Homo sapiens: one gene and its partners. The protein of the gene in region 3 purifies or fractionates together with the protein of the main gene of each other region. This does not show direct contact. Each region holds a gene or a part of one and is shown on either strand. Other genes may lie near its edges.

What was found. Proteins that work in one complex are often made in the same cells at the same time.
Region 1: the proteins of ZSWIM8 (region 3) and METTL9 purify together in Homo sapiens (co-immunoprecipitation; one large-scale study listed by IntAct). This does not show direct contact.
Region 2: the proteins of ZSWIM8 (region 3) and RABEPK purify together in Homo sapiens (co-immunoprecipitation; one large-scale study listed by IntAct). This does not show direct contact.

The regions. Positions count from the first base shown.
Region 1 is NC_000016.10:21,609,577-21,613,076, reverse strand, and holds part of METTL9 (protein-L-histidine N-pros-methyltransferase isoform 1 precursor), read right to left. Parts: intron 433-3,500; coding exon 242-432; intron 1-241. UniProt on the Homo sapiens protein: Protein-histidine N-methyltransferase that specifically catalyzes 1-methylhistidine (pros-methylhistidine) methylation of target proteins.
Region 2 is NC_000009.12:125,207,042-125,210,541, reverse strand, and holds part of RABEPK (rab9 effector protein with kelch motifs), read right to left. Parts: intron 3,434-3,500; exon of another isoform or gene 3,254-3,433; intron 2,979-3,253; coding exon 2,821-2,978; intron 1-2,820. UniProt on the Homo sapiens protein: Rab9 effector required for endosome to trans-Golgi network (TGN) transport.
Region 3 is NC_000010.11:73,784,261-73,788,405, reverse strand, and holds the start of ZSWIM8 (zinc finger SWIM domain-containing protein 8), read right to left. Parts: upstream 2,801-4,145; 5' UTR 2,528-2,800; coding exon 2,320-2,527; intron 1-2,319. UniProt on the Homo sapiens protein: Substrate recognition component of a SCF-like E3 ubiquitin-protein ligase complex that promotes target-directed microRNA degradation (TDMD), a process that mediates degradation of microRNAs (miRNAs).

The DNA of each region.
Region 1 (3,500 bases), on a different chromosome or scaffold from region 3:
AGCACTACCGTAAGTAACTCCCGCTATGAATAAACATACTAATGAGGCTGTCACGTTATGGTGAATTTAAAGGGCAGAACCACAGAAAGATAGAACGCTGGACCAACTGCCAAGGTTCTGACTAGTAGAAGTATTGTAGCTCAGGTAGTCAACATGCTGAACAAGATAACTTTTCTTTTTGTGTTTTTCCTTTTGTAAACCTAAGGATAAAGAAAAAAATAAATGTCCAAGATTCACTTACCCATTGATAGATGTTCTAGACATAAACAGGCTAAAAACAGATGACACAAAAGAATGATATAATTGGATAAATAGCCAGCCCGATTTCTCAATGCTGTTGTTTAAGAAGATCTGTGTTCCTTGATCAAGGTAACTCTGAACAAAGACAGCCTGGAGTGATTCGCATAATTTCTCTCTGTTGCACACATACCACTAAAAAAAAAAAAAAAAAAAGAACAAAAATTAAAACACACAACCGAAGTGTCACCTAAGAAATCCAAAAACAAAAAACCAGAAGACTAAATCACATCTAAGATTTCCAAATATTACCATCTCATGATACTCTGAGAATAATCATTTCGTATACTCATATAACCTATAAAATATAAAGTACTTCTTCAGACATGACTTCTCATTTAATTCTCTTACAGCCCTCAAGGTAGGTAGAGTGGGTGAGGGAAGGGTGGAGAGGCTTTTGGGTCATTCAGCTTAGTAGGCAGCAGAACCAGACCACAGCTCAGGCACTCGGACTCCCAGCCCAGTGCTTCAGTCACTGTACCCGAGATTTAGAAAGCTCTGCTGGCCTCTCTTTCACTGAGATTCAACATCAGAAGGCAAACAGCTAGCAGCATCCTTGTTTTTAGACAAGAAAACAGTCACATAATCCAATGCCTTAACTCAAAATCACCAAACAAACCCAAATAGCAAAGTAAGCAACAGAATTTAACACTCCAGTGACCAGATTAAGTTGCCTTTCCTCTTGTGGACTATGTAAAAGAGATCTTTAGAAATCTTGAGGTATGCTTTACAAATAGGTCATATGACATTCTTACAGAGGCAACATGTGCTCAAGAAAGATTAAGAAGTTACTTAAGGTCATACTGCAATCAACGAGAAGACCAAATAGTAACATGCTAAGAACCAGATTTCCAGGAATTGGCTCTACCCAGAATCCACATTCTAGAACAAAATTCAAAAAGCTTCACCTGTAGATGAAATTTAATCTTTCATAATAAATGAGTCAGCATACCAGAGAGGTGGGGAAGCAGACTGTACATCAGCTTTAGCGTCAGCCCCACAATCAAGTCCCGGCTCTGCCCTTCCTATGTGAGCTCAGACAAATCACTTAAATCTCTCAGCCTCCATTCATTTGTAGACTAGAGATGTCACTGGGGTCTATATATCCTGGCAGGGTACGATGAGGATTAAACAAGATAATGCAGGCAAGTCCTCAACATAATACAAAGCACGTAGTGAGAATCCTACAATAATAATAGCAGTGAGATTCCTCTAACATAGCCTGAGAAATAAGAATAAGCCCCTTAAGTACAGTGATGAAACTACAAAGTATATCAATTATTATTAACCCATTATCTGCCATGAAACACAAATTTTTCCCAGTCAATTGGCCAAGAGTAATTTGCTTCCCCTTGACAAATACGACCTTTTATCAGCAGTAGACGTCCCATAAGTGCTTGCACAATTGGTAGACCAGCTTTACAGTCATCCTAAGCTTACTAATGTTCAGTGAAATCTTAAGTAACATTCCTGATGCTAACGTTAAAAGGAACTAGTTACAAATCAACACAAACAAACAGGCACGTTAAATTTCAGAGATTAATCATTTTACAAACTCTGTTCCCTAAACTGGGTAAACCAAACCTTTCCAGTTGTGGACTAATTTGTGCTAATTTGCCATTTCATCACAGTTATCAAAACTGCTTGGACTTTATATATAAAACTGTTTTTATTTTTCCTACTCTATATGACAAGCTATGAAGCTTTTTACATTCACTGCCTACATTTTTTCCCTTGGTCTGAAAATGTTCTTGCTTAATGATTTTCTAATTCTTAATACTTATTGTGCCTGAAGTTATGCTCCAGTGCAGGTCATAAACCGTTTTTTATTATACTCATGACCTCCTGGTGCACGTTCTGAACTCTGTAATATGGAGGCCACTCTGACTTTTATTTATTTTTTATTCTCTGAAATGGCTAATCAAGATGAAAGCCATCACCTTGATAATAGGCAATCAGGTACATTTTATTAATGTGGATGAGAAGTCATTCAAGTGAAACAGAGGAGCTAAGAATTCCTTGGCATCCACTTGTAAATGGACTAGAACAACAATAGATTCTGACTTCTAGAACCAAGCAGGAACTGGCACCATTAGCTGCAAATAGTGCTTTCAAGCACCAAGAGGAAAACTCAAGTTTTTAATAGCATTTTTCTCAATTCATCAACATTAACACGTGTGGTTGAACCCTTACTGTCACACAGGTCTTTCTGGAAAGAAACTGCTTATTGAACAGAATGTGCTACAGAACAAAAATAGAGCAAAGCTCTTCTCTTTAAAAAGAAAGGTGAAACGTATGTCCTTTCTGACCATTTGCATGACACAAATGTCGATTTCACAGCAGCAATGTCAGAAACTGCAAACAAGTCAAATGTCCATCAAATGGTGGATAAGCAAGATGTGATAATAGATTCATATAAAATAATAGCATGTTCTGCCATACAAAGGAATGAAGCACTGCTTCATGCTCCAGCATGGATGAACCTTGACAACATTATGCTAAGTGAAATAAGTCAGTCACAAAAGACCACATACTGTGTAATTCCACTTACGTGAAATGTCTTGAATATGCAAATCCAGAGATAGAAAGTAGATAGTAGATTGTGGCTGCCAGGGGCTGGGGAGCTGGGACAATGTGGAGTGGCTGCTAATGGACATGAGGTTTCTTTTTGGGGTGATGAAATGTTCCAAAATTAATACTGGTGATGGCTGCATAATTCTGTGATTATACTAAAAATCAATGAATTGTACTCTTTAAAAGGATAAATTTCATGGTATGTGAATTATATCCCAATAAAGCTGTTTTTTAAACACACACACACACCCCTCCCTAAATATGCAGGTGGCAGTTAGATCTTCCAGAAATTAAAAGTGGCCTGAAAACATAAGTAACCTAGAAAACCTCTTAAAATGCAAATTTTAAATGCAAATCTGATCACATCACTACCCTGCTTAACAGGAATCTTAGGATAACATCCAAAATGCTTAATATGGCTTATAAGGCCCTGCACGATTTTTGTTCATTCTGTGTCTCCAGCCTCACCTCATGACATTCCCTACCAACCCATGACCCCTGGACCCTCACTCCATCACACAGCTCCACCCCTTCCTTCTTTTTTCTGGAAGGCCCCTTTCCCGTGGCTGTCTCACATGGTATTTGCTCTGCCCCCCAACATTTCCCACCACCTAACCCACTCTCTCTTC
Region 2 (3,500 bases), on a different chromosome or scaffold from region 3:
TTCACCATGTTGGCCAGGATGGTCTCGATCTCCTGACCTTGTGATTTGCCTGCCTCGGCCTCCCAAAGTGCTGGGATTACAGGCGTGAGTCACCACGCCCAGCTAATAATCATTTCCTTTTTTTTTTTTTTTTTTTTTGAGACGGAGACTTGCTCTGTCACCCAGGCTGGAGTGCAGTGGCACGATCTCCACTCACTGCAAGCTCCGCCTCCCGGATTCACGCCATTCTCCTGCCTCAGCCTCCCCGAGTAGCTGGGACTATAGGTGCCCGCCACCACGCCTGGCTAATTTTTTGTATTTTTAGTAGAGACAGGGTTTCACCGTGTTAGCCAGGATGGTCTCGATCTCTTGACCTAGCGATCCGCCCGCCTCAGCCTCCCAAAGTGCTGGGATTAGAGGCGTGAGCCACTGCGCCCAGATCCAATTGTTTCTTATTAGCAGGTTCATTCATTCATTCATTTAAATACTTATAGAGCACCCACTCTGTACTAAGCCCTGTGGTAGTGTCTGGGATACAATGATGAGGAAAATATGCTATCTGTTTCTGAGGAGCTTATGTTCTTGTGGGGCAGACGGACAAGAAACAATCACATGTGATAGGGCTGTGAAGGCAGACAGGATGGAAGAGCACATGAGACTACGGACATACAGAGTCATGTAGTGCCTGAACGAGTCCAGAGGTAACAGGAAAGGTTCCTGGTAGAAGTGACATTTAATCTGAAATCTGAAAGATATAGAGAAGCCAGATGATAAGAAAAGGGAAAAACATTCCTAGCAGAGGGATCTGTGTGTGCAAAGGCATGGAGGCCAGAGAGCTCAAGCTGTGTTCAAGGAACTGAAGGATATCCAGTGCAGCAAATGTGGGTTGGAGAGAGCCAAGAAATGAGGTTGGGGCCGGGCTCGGTGGCTCACGCCTGTAATCCCAGCACTTTGGGAGACTGATGCAAGCAGATCACTTGAGGTCAGAAGTTTGAGACCAGCCTGGCCAACATGGTGAAACCCCCATCTCTACTAAAAATACAAAAATTAGCCAGGCTGGTGGCACGCGCCTGTAATCCCAGCTATTCAGGAGGCTGAGGCAGGAGAATCGCTTGAACCCAGTAGGCAGAGGTTGCAGTGAGCCAAGATTGTGCCACTGCACTCCAGCCTGGGTGACAGAGCGACACGCTGCCTCAAAAAAAAAAGGCTGGTGTGGTGACTCACATGCATAATCCCAGCACTTTGGGAGGATGAGGCGGGAGGATCACCAGGTCAGGATTTGAAGACCAGCCTGATCAACATCGTGAAACCCCATCTCTACTAAAAATACAAAAATTAGCAGGGCATGGTGGCGCACACCTGTAATCCCAGCTATTTAGGAGGCTGAGGCAGGAGAATTGCTTGAACCCAGGAGGCAGAGGTTGCAGTAAGCCGAGTTTGCAGCACCACTGCACTCCAGCCTGGGCAACAGAGCAAGACTTGGTCTCAAAAAAAAAAAAAAAAAAGGGAGGTTGAGAAAAGTCTGAAATAGGGAGTGACATGGTTAGATTTGTATTTTAGATGATATTCGCTGGCTAGGTAGAGAAAATGCACTGTATAGGGGGTAAACTTGGAAGCAGGGAGGCTGGTGAGGAGGCTCTTGTAAGTCTAGTTGAGAGATAACAGTGGCTTGGACTACAGTAGTAGTAGTGGAAATGGACAGACATGGATAAAGATAAGAGATATGTAGGCTGGGCGTGGTGGCTCATACCTGTAATCCCAGCACTTTGGGAGGCCAAGAAGGGTGAATCATGAGGTCTGGAGTTCGAGACCATCCTGGCCAACATGGTGAAACTCAGTCTCTACTAAAAATACAAAAGATTAGCTGGGTGTAGTGGTGGGCGCCTGTAATCCCAGCTTCTCAGGAGGCTGAGGCAGGAGAATCGCTTGAACCTGGAAGGCACAGGTTGCGGTCAGCTGAGGTCGTGCCACTGCACTCCAGCCTTGGCAACAGAGTGGGACTCCGTCTAAAAAAAAAAAAAATTAGCTGGGCATGGTGGCACATGCCTGTAATCCCAAGTACTTGGGGAGGCTGAGGCAGGAGAATCTCTTGAACCTGGGAGGCAGAGGTTGCAATGAGTGAAGATCGCGCCATTGCACTCCAGCCTGGGCAATAAGAGCGAAACTCCATCTCAAAAAAACAAAAACAAAAAACAAAGAAAAGAGATATGTAGGGCTTAGTGATATATTGGATATGTGAATAGAATGAGTGGTGGTAGTCATCAATGTATCCTACAGAAATATTTGATGAATAAATGGCTGGACAACCAGGGCTCCATAAGGGTTCTCTCCCGCTAAACAAGGAGGTACTGGTCAGATGAATGTGTGCCAGGGGCCTACTAAGAAACCTGAGGGATCTGTCAGTGATGCTGACTTTTTCTTTTTTCTTTTTTTTTGAGACAGAGTCTTGCTCTGTCACCCAGGCCGGAGTACAGTGGCATGATCCTGGCTTACTTTAACTTCCATCTCCCCAGTTCAAAGTAATTCTCCTGTCTCAGCCTCCCGAGTAGCTGGGACTACAGGTGCCCACTACCACACCCGGCTAATTTTTTTGTATTTTTAGTAGAGACAGGGTTTCATCATATTGGTCAGGCTGGTCTCGAACTCTAACCTCAGGTGATCCACCTGCCTTGGCCTCCCAAAGTGCTGGGATTAGAGGCGTGAGCCACCACACCTGGTCCTGGCCATGTTTTCTTATAGGAAAACCCTGCTGGTGTTTTTAGGAATGCCCTGCTCATGGCTAGCAGCACACAGCCCTGTTCTCTGGCCATAGGGCATGTACTCTGCAGCTGCTGATCTTACCCAGATCCATGGTGTGCACGTCTGAGAAGCTTCTGTTTGGATTTGCTCCCCCAACAATGAAGACCTTCCCTCTCTTGGCATTACCAACTGGGGGTAAATATGAACAGCTGTGGCCAACTCGAGCACAGGGGCTGTCTCCAGGGACAGTCAAGGTGTACCTGCCAAAGGAAGGATGTATTCAGGAGGCCTGAGCAGAGAATAAATGCAGTAGTGTGCTCTTTCCATTCCTCATGAAATATTCACCAGAATGAAGAGCCTTATGCAGACACTTTAAATTGTACCCAATAAAGCAGCACTTCTCTGATTAATAATAGTACCTCCCCTTTGCACACAGTCTTTGGCTTTTCAATTTTGTCACTGTCTTCATCTCACAGTAATCTGGTAGGAATGCACTGGGCTTATTTTTCCCCATTTGGTAGATAGGGAAACTGACCTCCAGAAATGTTCAGTGATGGGTCTTGGCACAGGATGGTGGCTGTGAGCATGGTGTATGAATTCAGACAGATCTGGTTCAAATTCGAGCTCAGGTACTTCCTAGATGTGTGACCTTTTGGAAGTCACTTAACCTTTCTGAACTTTAGTTTACTCATTTGTGAAATGAGGACAGCAATGGTTCTTTTTTTTTTTTTTTTAAGATGGAGTTTTGCTCTTGTTGCCCAGGCTGGAGTGCAATGGCGTGA
Region 3 (4,145 bases):
AAACTCCTGGCCAGACAGGTGCGTTCCAGGACCCTAGCAAGTAACCCTGCTCACATGGCTCAGCACTGAATTTCCCATATTCCATGAGCATTTTAAATTCAAATTACATGGTTAATGTCTCTCCTCTGGCATTCTTGTCTCCGATTGCCTTTTTTTTTTTTTTTTAACCATCCCTTTTACTCTAGATGACTGTAGGCCCCCAGCTAAGGAGACAAGATAGACCAGAGCCCGGAAGGGATCTCAAGAAGCACGAGAGGCCAGACCACTTTTGGCGCGCCTAAATGACAACTTCCCACACTGGAAACCCTCAAGGGGAGAGAGTTATCGCAGGGCACCTAGCTACTGCTGCAACTGGAATCACCTGGACTAAGATAAAGTTACCACTCAAGGTTTTCCACAGTGTTTTAACCAAAAAGTAGTGATAACATGACAAACTACATCTCACAAAATTGCTAGTCACATTAATAGATCAGAAAATCATAGAATTAAAAAGAACCTTTTTAGAAGAGTTAACCCCTTTATTTTATTTTTTTGATTTTTATTTATTTATTTTGAGATGAAGTCTCACTCTGTCACCCAGGCTGGAGTGCAATGGTGCCATCTTGGCTCACCACAACCTCTCCCTCCTGGGTTCAAACTTACCTCCCACCTCAGCCTCCCAAGTAGCTGAGATTACAAGCGGGTGCCAACACACCCAGCGAATCTTTTGTATTTTTAGTAGAGATGGGGTTTCACCATGTTGGCCAAGCTGGTCTCAAACTCCTGACCACAAGTGATCCACCCGACTCGGCCTCCCAAAGTACTGGGATTACAGGCACGAGCCACCGCACCTGGCCAACCCCTTTATTTTACAAGTCAGTGACTGAAGTCGGGGGACTGGGGTAATATGGCATGTTTTCCCAGATTTTAACCTGACCAGGAAGATACCAATATGTTAACAATCTTCATCGCTATGACTTCAGTTACTTCCCTCAAAGTGAGGGAGCACTAAGCCCCAAGACCACCCACATACTCAAATATGAAAGAAGCCAGAAGGCCACAGAAGACCCACGGTAAAACTGCCTATGATCTGTGTGTGTTTGTGTGTGTGTACACAGGCCATATCCTCTCTCCAACTGAAGCTGAATGCCACCAGTCCGCCACTCCTAAAAAGTGATATATATGCCGGGAGCGGTGGCTCACGCCTGTAATCCCAGCACTTCGGGAGGCCGAGGCGCGCAGATCACCTAAGGTCGGGAGTTCAAGACCAGCCTGACCAACATGGAGAAACCCGGTCTCCACTAAAAATACAAAAATTAGCCGGGCATGGTGACACATGCCTGTAATCCCAGCTACTCAGGAGGCTGAGGCAGGAGAATCGCTTGAACTGGGGAGGCGGAGGTTGCGGTGAGCCGAGATCGTGCCATTGCACTCCAGCCTGGGCAACAAGAGCAAAACTCCGTCTCAAAAAAAAAAAAAAAAAGTGATATATGTAAATTTCTCTCTGTCCCAAAGGAGCACCAGAAATCTCCACAAGCCAGTTTGGAAAACAGGACTCTTGGAAAGGCCTGAGTAGAATCACACAAATTAAACATCTCAACTGCTGAAAAAAGCCAGCTTCCACTGAGGACCAGGACAAAAACTGTGCCATGAGGAAGGCACAGCAGGCAAGTCCCAGCCTTGGCTTCTGACAGATATTTGACATGGCCAGAAGCAAAGTCTATGATCTAAACCTATGAACTATGGACTCTCTGGCAGGCCAGTTCACCTCTATTTTCCTCTGGGTAGGATCCCTTCTTGGTGCTTCTGGGATCAGAGATCATCACCCCGAAGCAAGAAGCTCCCAATGCACTTTGCAATGCGGTGACAAGCCACAAGTGGTCACTTCTTCACAATCAGCCCCCTACCCACATTCTCTTCCTCTACTTTCCGGTATGCCTCAGACTGAACTCACTTAAGTATTCCCAAGTCAAAGACAAGATTCTTCTCCCTTATCCCCTCTCTAAGGCAAAGGAGTGACGAAAGATTTACTTTCTGTCCACAGGATCTCCCTGTCACAGCGCGCGCACGCGCGCGCGCGCACACACACACACACACACCCACACACACACAGGTGTGGAGAAGCCAGCCCACCCCAGGAAGGCCGGAAAAGCGAGTTCTGAAGTCTGTTCTAAGCTTGGGACAGCTCCCAGTCGGGGACAGCTCCCGGCCGGGGACAGCTCCCCTTTCTTCCCCTGGTTGAAGAGAGCTCTTGGTCGGGGACAGCTCCTGGTCCCGGACAGCTCCCGAGCGAGGCCCAAGCAGGGCCTGCCGCTCCTCTTCCCCCCAGCTCACTCTCACCTCGCATTCTGGTACCGCCACTGCCACCTCCGCCACCGCCGCCAGTGGGGGAATTGGGCCCCGCTGACTGTTTGCGCCATCCCCGCCAGTTCTGGCAGAGGCTCTCGGCCTCGGAGATGAAGGAACAGAGTGAATCCTCCTCAAAACGGTCCGAATCCTCGAATGAGAAGCGCTCTCCGTCCTCCCACTCTGCAAACATCAGCTCCATGGGGCCCGCACCCCCCGGGGCCGGGTCCCCCCCCGCGGATCCGGGGCCTGGGCCGCCGGCCGGGGGTTGAGGGGAGGCCCGGGGCCTGAGGGGCGAGCCGGGGCTGGGGGTGGCCGGGGCGCTCAGGGCGGCCGTGCCGGGCGAGAATCTCAGGCCTGGGAAAGAGACGGGACCGGGCCTCGCCCAACAGCGCGGTGCAAGCGGTGATCTTGGCCAGTCTCCGAGACTTAGGGCCGGGACGAAGCGCTCGGCGGCTGGGGCCTCTAGGCGGCTGCGGAGCCGCCTCCCCCATCAGCTGATCTGGACTTCCGGCCGCGCGGGCCACCACCACTTCCGCCCTCGCGCGCTCGGGATCCGGATCGGGTACGGGCGGATGTAGGGGACATTTTTATTTAATGGCTGCATTTGCTTTTTTTCCCTCGAGCCCACCCTCAGACATCATAAGAGGAAGCCAACTCCCAACGTTATACGAAGCAACTACAGATCCCAGCAACAACTCGGAGTCCATAATGTCCCCAAGGCATAAACAGCCGCCATGCATGTTGGGAATTGTAGGCTGTCAGGAGAGGACAGCAACTATTGGATGGAGTTATTGTCTTAACTCTGGATAGGCCCCAGGGCCGCACCACCTTCTGGGAATCGTAGTCCAGAAGTCTGCAATCCAGCCGACCTTTTTATAGGGTCTAACTGGGGAAACATCAGAAAAGAATGCATTTGATTTCAGGAAATGGTTGTACTGTTTGTCCATACGGCCTTTGGATCTAGTAACTCAACCTTTTTTTGTGCCATGGACCCTTTAGCAGTCTAGGTAGGTTTCTGGACCCCCTTCTCAGATCGTTTACAAATGCACAAAATACCAAGAATTACAAAGGAAACCAGTTGTTTAAATACAATTATTAAACTATTAATAGAACAAATCTGTAACGTAATAGTGCTCCTTTATTTACACATTAAATGACAAGATCTAGGAGGAAGCGTAGTAACTATCATAATTTTGAAGCTAGTGATGAGTATAAATGCTTTTTGAGATATTTGTAACCAACTGTAACATGGTATGAAAATACCATGATTTCATATAGGTTTTGATAATGTTACTGTGGTTTGTTTTCCATAGCCCTGACTGAAATGCTAAATTTCAGTTGGAGTTAAAAATATAAATTATCCCCCAAGTTCACAGACGTCTTAACTGGAGTCTATTGACCTAGGTTAAGAACTCCTAAGGCCAGGCGCGGTGGCTTACGCCTGTAATCCTAGCACTTTGGGAGGCTGAGGCGGGCAAATCACGAGGTCAGGAGATCGAGACCATCCTGGCTAACACGGTGAAACCCCGTCTCTACTGAAAATGCAAAGAATTAGCCAGGCGTGGTGGTGGGCGCCTGTAGTCCCAGCTACTCGGGAGGCTGAGGCAGGAGAATGGCGTGAACCCGGGAAACGGAGCTTGCAGTGAGCCAAGATCGTGCCACTGCACTAGCGCGGGCGACAGAGCGAGACTCCATCTCAAAAAAAAAAAAAAAGCTAACTGAATTATGCCTGAAAGGGCAGAGTATACATAAAATGCTATGCAATTTTTCCTAGTATCAGGGGAATCACAAAAGCGAATGCCTTCAGCAACTAGGCA